Linked DNA regions of Homo sapiens. The protein of the gene in region 1 purifies or fractionates together with the protein of each later gene. This does not show direct contact. Each region holds a gene or a part of one and is shown in the gene's direction. Other genes may lie near its edges.

Region 1 (3,229 bases):
GCCATGCTGCACTTCTCTGTCCCACTTTACCAAGAGTTAGCAGTGTGCTTCACACCTGCAGAAGCCTGGGAGAGAATTTGTATTTTTAGTGGAGATGGGGTTTCCTGTCTGGGAGTCAGACGTGGAGGGGGAAAGGTGAGCACGCAGAACACTACGGGAAGATCTTACTTCCAATTCTGGCAATTGCCACCTGCAGCCATGTGTCCTGGGTCTAAAGCCATTTCACCTCTCCAGGTCTGTCTTCTCTTTCTCACAGGCACAAAGTCCCCTACCTTTATGCACCACCAGTAGTATGAACATGGGTAGCCCAGGGCTTAGCAGTGGCGTTCATTTTGGTTTTCTCAGACACTGGACAGGGGAGCCTGGGGCAGACCAGTGCATGTGTTTTGATCATTTGCCACTGTGGTCTTTTTGGGTCTTTTGCAGATTTGCTCCCTGCAATGCCAGGCTGCCCTGCTGCCCTCTGAGGAATGGGAGAGATGCCAGAGCTTTCTGTCTTTTTTCACCCCCTCCACCCTTGGGCTCAATGACAAGGAGGACTTGGGGAGCAAGTCGGTTGGGGAAGGGCCCTACAGTGAGCTGGCCAAGCTCTCTGGGTCATTCCTGAAGGAGCTGGAGAAAAGCAAGTTTCTCCCAAGTATCTCAACAAAGGAGAACACTCTGAGCAAGAGCCTGGAGGAGAAGCTCAGGGGTCTCTCTGACGGGTTTAGGGAGGGAGCAGAGTCTGAGCTGATGAGGGATGCCCAGCTGAACGATGGTGCCATGGAGACTGGCACACTCTATCTCGCTGAGGAGGACCCCAAGGAGCAGGTCAAACGCTATGGGGGCTTTTTGCGCAAATACCCCAAGAGGAGCTCAGAGGTGGCTGGGGAGGGGGACGGGGATAGCATGGGCCATGAGGACCTGTACAAACGCTATGGGGGCTTCTTGCGGCGCATTCGTCCCAAGCTCAAGTGGGACAACCAGAAGCGCTATGGCGGTTTTCTCCGGCGCCAGTTCAAGGTGGTGACTCGGTCTCAGGAAGATCCGAATGCTTACTCTGGAGAGCTTTTTGATGCATAAGCACCTCTTTTCATGGAGTAGAGTCAGGAGAAACCCCTGACACCTTTTCAGGTTGGAGTGCATTCATTCATCCTCTTATATGTGCCCCTTCCCCATGCTCAGCTCAGCATTGTGTACAAAATATCCAAGCCCAGCCTATCTCTCTTCTGCGTGGGAGTATGTTATTTCTCTGGGGTCTGTGATGGGGAAGGGTGGATGTCCCTTCCCCACAATAGGCTTAGTGCTTGGCTCAGACACCTAGACTCTAAAACTATCAGCAGCGGCAGCAGCAGCAGCAGCAGCAGTTTGTGATCTGTCCTTCCAACCTGTTCACGTGACTCCTCAATTCCAGGGAACCAGAGCGATGTGTTCTTTGTACCTGTAGGTCTATGATGTCCAAACTTAACAGATCACATGCCCCTCTTAGAAGAAATATGAGCATGCTCCCTCATGCAGATAGTATACACATCATAAACAAAGAGTAGAACTTTAAAAGAAGGTAAATAATCATACACAGAAATCCTAACATTATATTCCCAAATCTCAAAAGATCTCCTGTGCACCTGACTTTGGAGACGATGCTTTAGGTAAAAAGCTTAAACATTGCCTTATATTGGATCAGGAACCCTTACAGTAGAGGGTCCAGTCTTCTAGTGGGTTTAATGTTTAGTCAGTGTACTCTGAGTCCTCATTGTTCAGAAAAGCACCTCTTGAAGAACTGACTTCCTGAACTCCCAGTCATGTTGGTACCCTGGACAGTGCCTAACTCCTTACAGAAGGGAGTGAAAACCTCTTTCGGAAATGATTGAGAGCAGCCTCTTGAATGCTTAAATGATCAAGGAGGGAGAAAGGCAAACCAATTTGTTCTGTGCAACAAACTCAAAATGTGGACCAGTTCCCTCAGCCCTCATTAAACTAATTAAACTGATGGGTATCATGCTTCTACTCCATGGTGAACTGAAGCAGAGTCAAGCTGATGAAGTTAAGCACAACCATGTTCTTGAGCAGCTGAATTGGCTGCCAAGAGTCCAAGCCATCTGGCCCAACATACGCACTGGGCATTGGGTAAGGGACTCCAGAAGCAGCAGCTAGAAAGAGAAAAAGCCCTCTTCAATCCCCATAATGCTTCTTTCCTCTTAATGTCTCAAAATAAAACCAGAAAGAGGAATAAAATGATTAAGTGCTTGAGGCCAAATGAGTTCCCTTGATTCAAATAACCCTGAATCAGAGGCAGAGACCTCCTGATGTCTTGGTTTCCATCAAAGCCCTCCCTGTCTGTCTGTCTCTCTTTTGCTCTCTCATTCCCAGGCACTCTCTTTTGGTTTGTGGGTCCAGGAGATGAGGCTGGATAGGAGAGGAAAAGGCTTGAGTCTGGATAATTTGTATAAGATGCTGCTGAGCACATCTCTTCATGCGCAGTCCCCAGGTATCTGATGATGTTCTGAAATGGATAGATTGTTTTAGAGTTATTTTGTGTCCTTTAAAAAAATCCCATTTATGCAATTTACTTGGAATTTGCTTAGCCTTTAATAGGCTTGTGTAATTTCCTGCTCCTCCAGTACAATAAATAAAAGAAAGATGCTGATGACTTGGTGGGTGTGTGTGTACGTGCACGTGCACATGTGTGTGAGCCTCAGTCCTCAGAGAGAAAAAAAATTTGCAGAAAAGAGTGCTAGGGAATAAAGAAGAGTTACACACACACACACACACACACACACACACATATTCAGGTTGGAAAACCAAGTGTGGGATAACAGAAAGAGCAAAAACTGTGAAGTGTCACAGCTTTAAATTGGAACATTGGATCTGTGCGACCTTGAGTAAGCCATTTGGCTTCTCTCAGCCTTAGTTCCTGCCTCCATAAAATAAAGACTAATAGTGCCAATTTTGTAGAGTTGCTGTGAGGATTAGAGGAGCTCATATATGCAAAGATCCTGGTACACAGTAGGTGCTCAGTAAATGAGTTTTTTTTCCTACATTGTCTTAAGGGATGGTGACAAAGCTTGAGCATTAAGCAACACAATGAGGAGAGTGGGGAGAGGTGCTGCAGAGGGAGTCTGCATCCCACATAATTCCCATGGGCTGTTTTCTATGCTAGATGACCAGGACAGGAGATAGAGACATGTTCCCAGACAAGGATGAGTGAGTTAGGGATGGAGGATGCTGTAGCCATGGGTGGCATAATGTC
Region 2 (3,829 bases), on another chromosome or scaffold:
TGGGTGTGTTAGTCCATTTTATAGTGCTATTAAGGAATACCTGAGACTGGGTGATTTATAAAGAAAAGAGGTTTTGTTTGGCCCATGGTTCTGCAGGCTGTACAAGCCTAATGCCAATGTCTATTTCTGGGGAGACCTCAGGAAGCTTACAATCATAGTGGAAGGTAAAGGGGGAGCCAGCACATCACGTGGCAACAGAGGGAACGAGAGATAAGGGGGGACATCCCAGACTCTTTTAAACAATCAGATCTCATGTGAACTCATTACTGAAGAGAAGGCATAAAACCATTTATGAGGGATATTCCCCCATGACCCTCCCACTAGGTTCCACCTTCATGTTTCAATATGCGATTTGGAGGAGACAAGCATCCAAACTATATCACGGTGTCTCTTTATTTTTTAAAAATTAATTTTGAATTGTTCCAGGTTTTTGGTATTATGGGTGATTTATAAAATTGAAACCTGAACAGTTTTATACTGTGAGACTCTGGACCTTTTTAAACCTTCTTGGCTTTCTTTGACACCATTCTGTCAGAGAAAGGAGTGGCATCACCTCATTACTGCTAGGCAGAGAGAGAAGTCCAGGTTCCCCTCCCAGCTTCCATCAGTACCTGAAGAGGATGATGCCCTCATACTGCCAGGTGGGATGAAAGTCCAGGCATCCCATTTGGACTGCACTAACAACCCATAAGATGGGTTGGGGGGACTTATTACTGGCCAGTGGGGAGGAAAGCCTCAGGTTTTTACTTGGCACTGTCTGATACCTTCCTGGCAGGGGAGCTGGGGCACCTCATTACAGTGCTTGCCAGGGTGGAAGCCTACGCTCCCCATCCTGCCTTTGCTGGTGTGAGGAGTGGTGGGGGCCAATGTTTTTTCTGTGGTGTTTGGCTGGAGTAAAGTGGTTATTCTCTAAAAGATTTTTGGCTTGCTAGGCTGCATCTTTCCTGATCCTTTGGTTAGAGAGATTATACTTTTGTTGGGGTGCTTTATGTTTTTGTTTTGTTTTGGTCTGTGCTCACTGACATTTCCAGGTTACTAGATTCTTCAGCTGCCGGGAAGAACCTCAGCAGCTGAGATATATGAGGCAAAAAGAAAACCTAGGAAACACACCACTAGGTTATTCTTTTGGACCTGAAGTCCCTAAATAGTCTGCCTTTTCTCTACCTTTCAGAGTCTTCTTATGTTTGTTTTATAGATAATGCCCAGGGTTATTAGTTGTACTTAACAGAAGGAATAGAGAAAAATATATCGATTCCATCCTTGTTAGAAGCAGAGGATATCAGACATACTTATTTTCTTAGTCTGTGTAGGCTGTCTGTAAGCCACAATGCAGAGCTCTCTGGGAAAACATGGATTGGAGAATGGGGTCTGGAGCCAAGGCTGAAGTAGAGTCTCCTCCATTCCAGATCTAGGACTTGGGACCCACACGCTCTAGTATGTGTACAAAGCACATAAAGTTAACAATTTAGATGAAGTAGACCAATTCCTCAAATCCCATGAACTATCAAAACTCACCGAAGATGAAGTAGATAACCTGAATAGTTCTACAACTATTGTTAGAAGTTGAATTCAAAGTTAAAAAGCTGCTGAAAAAAGAAATCTTCAGGCCCAGATGGTATTACTGGTAAATTCTACTAAACAGTTAGAGAAGAAGTAACACCAATTTTACATATCTATTCCAGAAATAGAGAAGGAGGAAACACTTGTCAACTCATTTTATGAGGCCAGAATCATCCTAATCCAAAACCAGACAAGAACAAACCATAGACCAATATAGATGCAAAAACCACCAGCAAAGTATTACCGAATAGAATCTGGCAGTATGTAAAAATAATCATACAGCATAATCAAGTAGGGTTTATCCCACAAATGCAAGCCTGATTCATGTCTATAACTCGATAATTAAAAATAAATTATTATAATCTGCCAAACTAACAGCAAAAACTGCATGAACATTAAAAAAATCACATGATCATATCAATTGATGCTTTGGCATTTGACAAAATTCAGCATCTGTTTATGATAGAAACTTTCAGCAAACTGGGAATACAAAGGAATTTACTCAACTTTATAGAGAGTATTTTTAAAAATCTAACATCATACTTAATGATGAAAGACTAAATGCTTTTCCCCCAAAACTGGAAATGAGGCAAGAATGTTCACCCTCACTATTCCAATTTATGATCATAGAAGAATTCCTAGGCAGTGCAGTAAAACAAGAGAAAAAAAGTGCATGTAGTTGGGGGAAAAAAGAAGTAAAACTGGGCCTGCTTGTAGATGACAATGTGATTGTATAGAAAATCCTAAGGAACGTATCAAACAAAACGAAACAACCCTCCCAGAACTAATAAGTGAGTTTAGCAAAGTCACAGGATACAAGGTCAGTACGTAACAATTTTATTTTTATATACAAGCAATGAACAATGGGGGAACTGAAAGTTTTAAAATACCATTTACAACAGTTTTTTTTAAGTACTACTCTACCAAAACACGTACAATATCCACATGCACTAAAAAGTAGAAAAAAGTGATATAATAAATCAAAGGAGACCTAAGTAAATATGTAGATTAGAAGACTAACAGATTAAAGATGTTAACCATCCTCAAATTGATCTGCAGACTTAAGGCAGTTCCAATCACAGTCCCAAAAGGACAATTTTGTAGATAAAGACAGACTGATCCTAAAATTTATATGGAAATACAAAAACACTAAAGTAGCCAAAACAATTTGAAAAAGAAGAAAGCTCAGTGAATCACACTACCTAATCTTAAGACTTACTCTAAACTACAGTAATCAGTGAGCAAAAGGCATGTAGATCTTTGGAGCAGAAGAGAGAGTCCAGGAATAGATTCATAGAAATATAGGCCAATTAATTTTTTACATAGGTGCAAAGGCAGTTCAATGGAAAAGGTTACATCTTTACAGTAAATGGTGTTGCAGCAATTGGACATAGATAGGCAAAAGAGGGACCCTTGATCTAAACCACACACCTCACACAAAATTTTAACTCTAAATGGATCATAGATCTAAATGTAAAAGGTAAAGCTGTAAACTTTTAGAAGAAAACATAGTGGAAAAATCATTTTCTGGGATTAGGTAAAATGTTCCTAAACATGCACCAAAAGCAAGGCTCATAAAAGAAAGAATTGACAGATTTCTCATGTGGCAAATGACTAGCGTCCTGAATATATGAAGGACTCTCTAAATCAAATAGTAAGAAAACAACCCAATTAAAAAATGGACAAAAGACTTTAACAGACATATCACCAAAGAGGTATAGAGATGGCAAATCAGTACATTGAAGGGGATCAACAGCAGTAGCCATTACAGAAATGCAAATTAAAACCATGATATCTCTGCACACTTAAAATGACTAAAATAAAATATGATACTAAGTGCTGATGGTTTGAGGAGCAACTGGAACTCTCATACACTGCTAGTAGGAATGCAAAATGTACAACCACTCTAGAAAACTGTCAGCTTCTTAATAAACATTTACCACTGACCCAACAATTCTACTCCTGCTATCTGCTTTAAAAAATGAAAACATGTCCACACAAAAACCCGTATACAAATACACAGAAACTCTATGAATAATCTCGCGATGGCTCACGCCTGTAATCCCAGCACTTTGGGAGGCCGAGGCAGGCAGATCACAAGGTCAGGAGTTCAAGACCAGCCTGGCCAATATGGTGAAACCCTGTCTCTACTAAAAAATACAAAAATTAGCCAGGCATGGTGATGGGCGCCTGTAGTCCCAGCTACTCAGAGGCTGAGGCAGGAGAATCGCTTGAACCCAGAAGGTGGAGGTTGCAGTGATCTGAGATG

The links.
Region 2: the proteins of PDYN (region 1) and ACAD11 purify together in Homo sapiens (affinity purification with mass spectrometry; 3 studies listed by BioGRID and IntAct, with this or other methods). This does not show direct contact.

What each region holds. Positions count from the first base shown.
Region 1 is NC_000020.11:1,978,156-1,981,384, reverse strand, and holds the end of PDYN (proenkephalin-B preproprotein), read left to right. Parts: intron 1-426; coding exon 427-1,062; 3' UTR 1,063-2,626; downstream 2,627-3,229.
Region 2 is NC_000003.12:132,562,168-132,565,996, reverse strand, and holds part of ACAD11 (acyl-CoA dehydrogenase family member 11), read left to right. Parts: intron 1-3,829. UniProt on the Homo sapiens protein: Acyl-CoA dehydrogenase, that exhibits maximal activity towards saturated C22-CoA.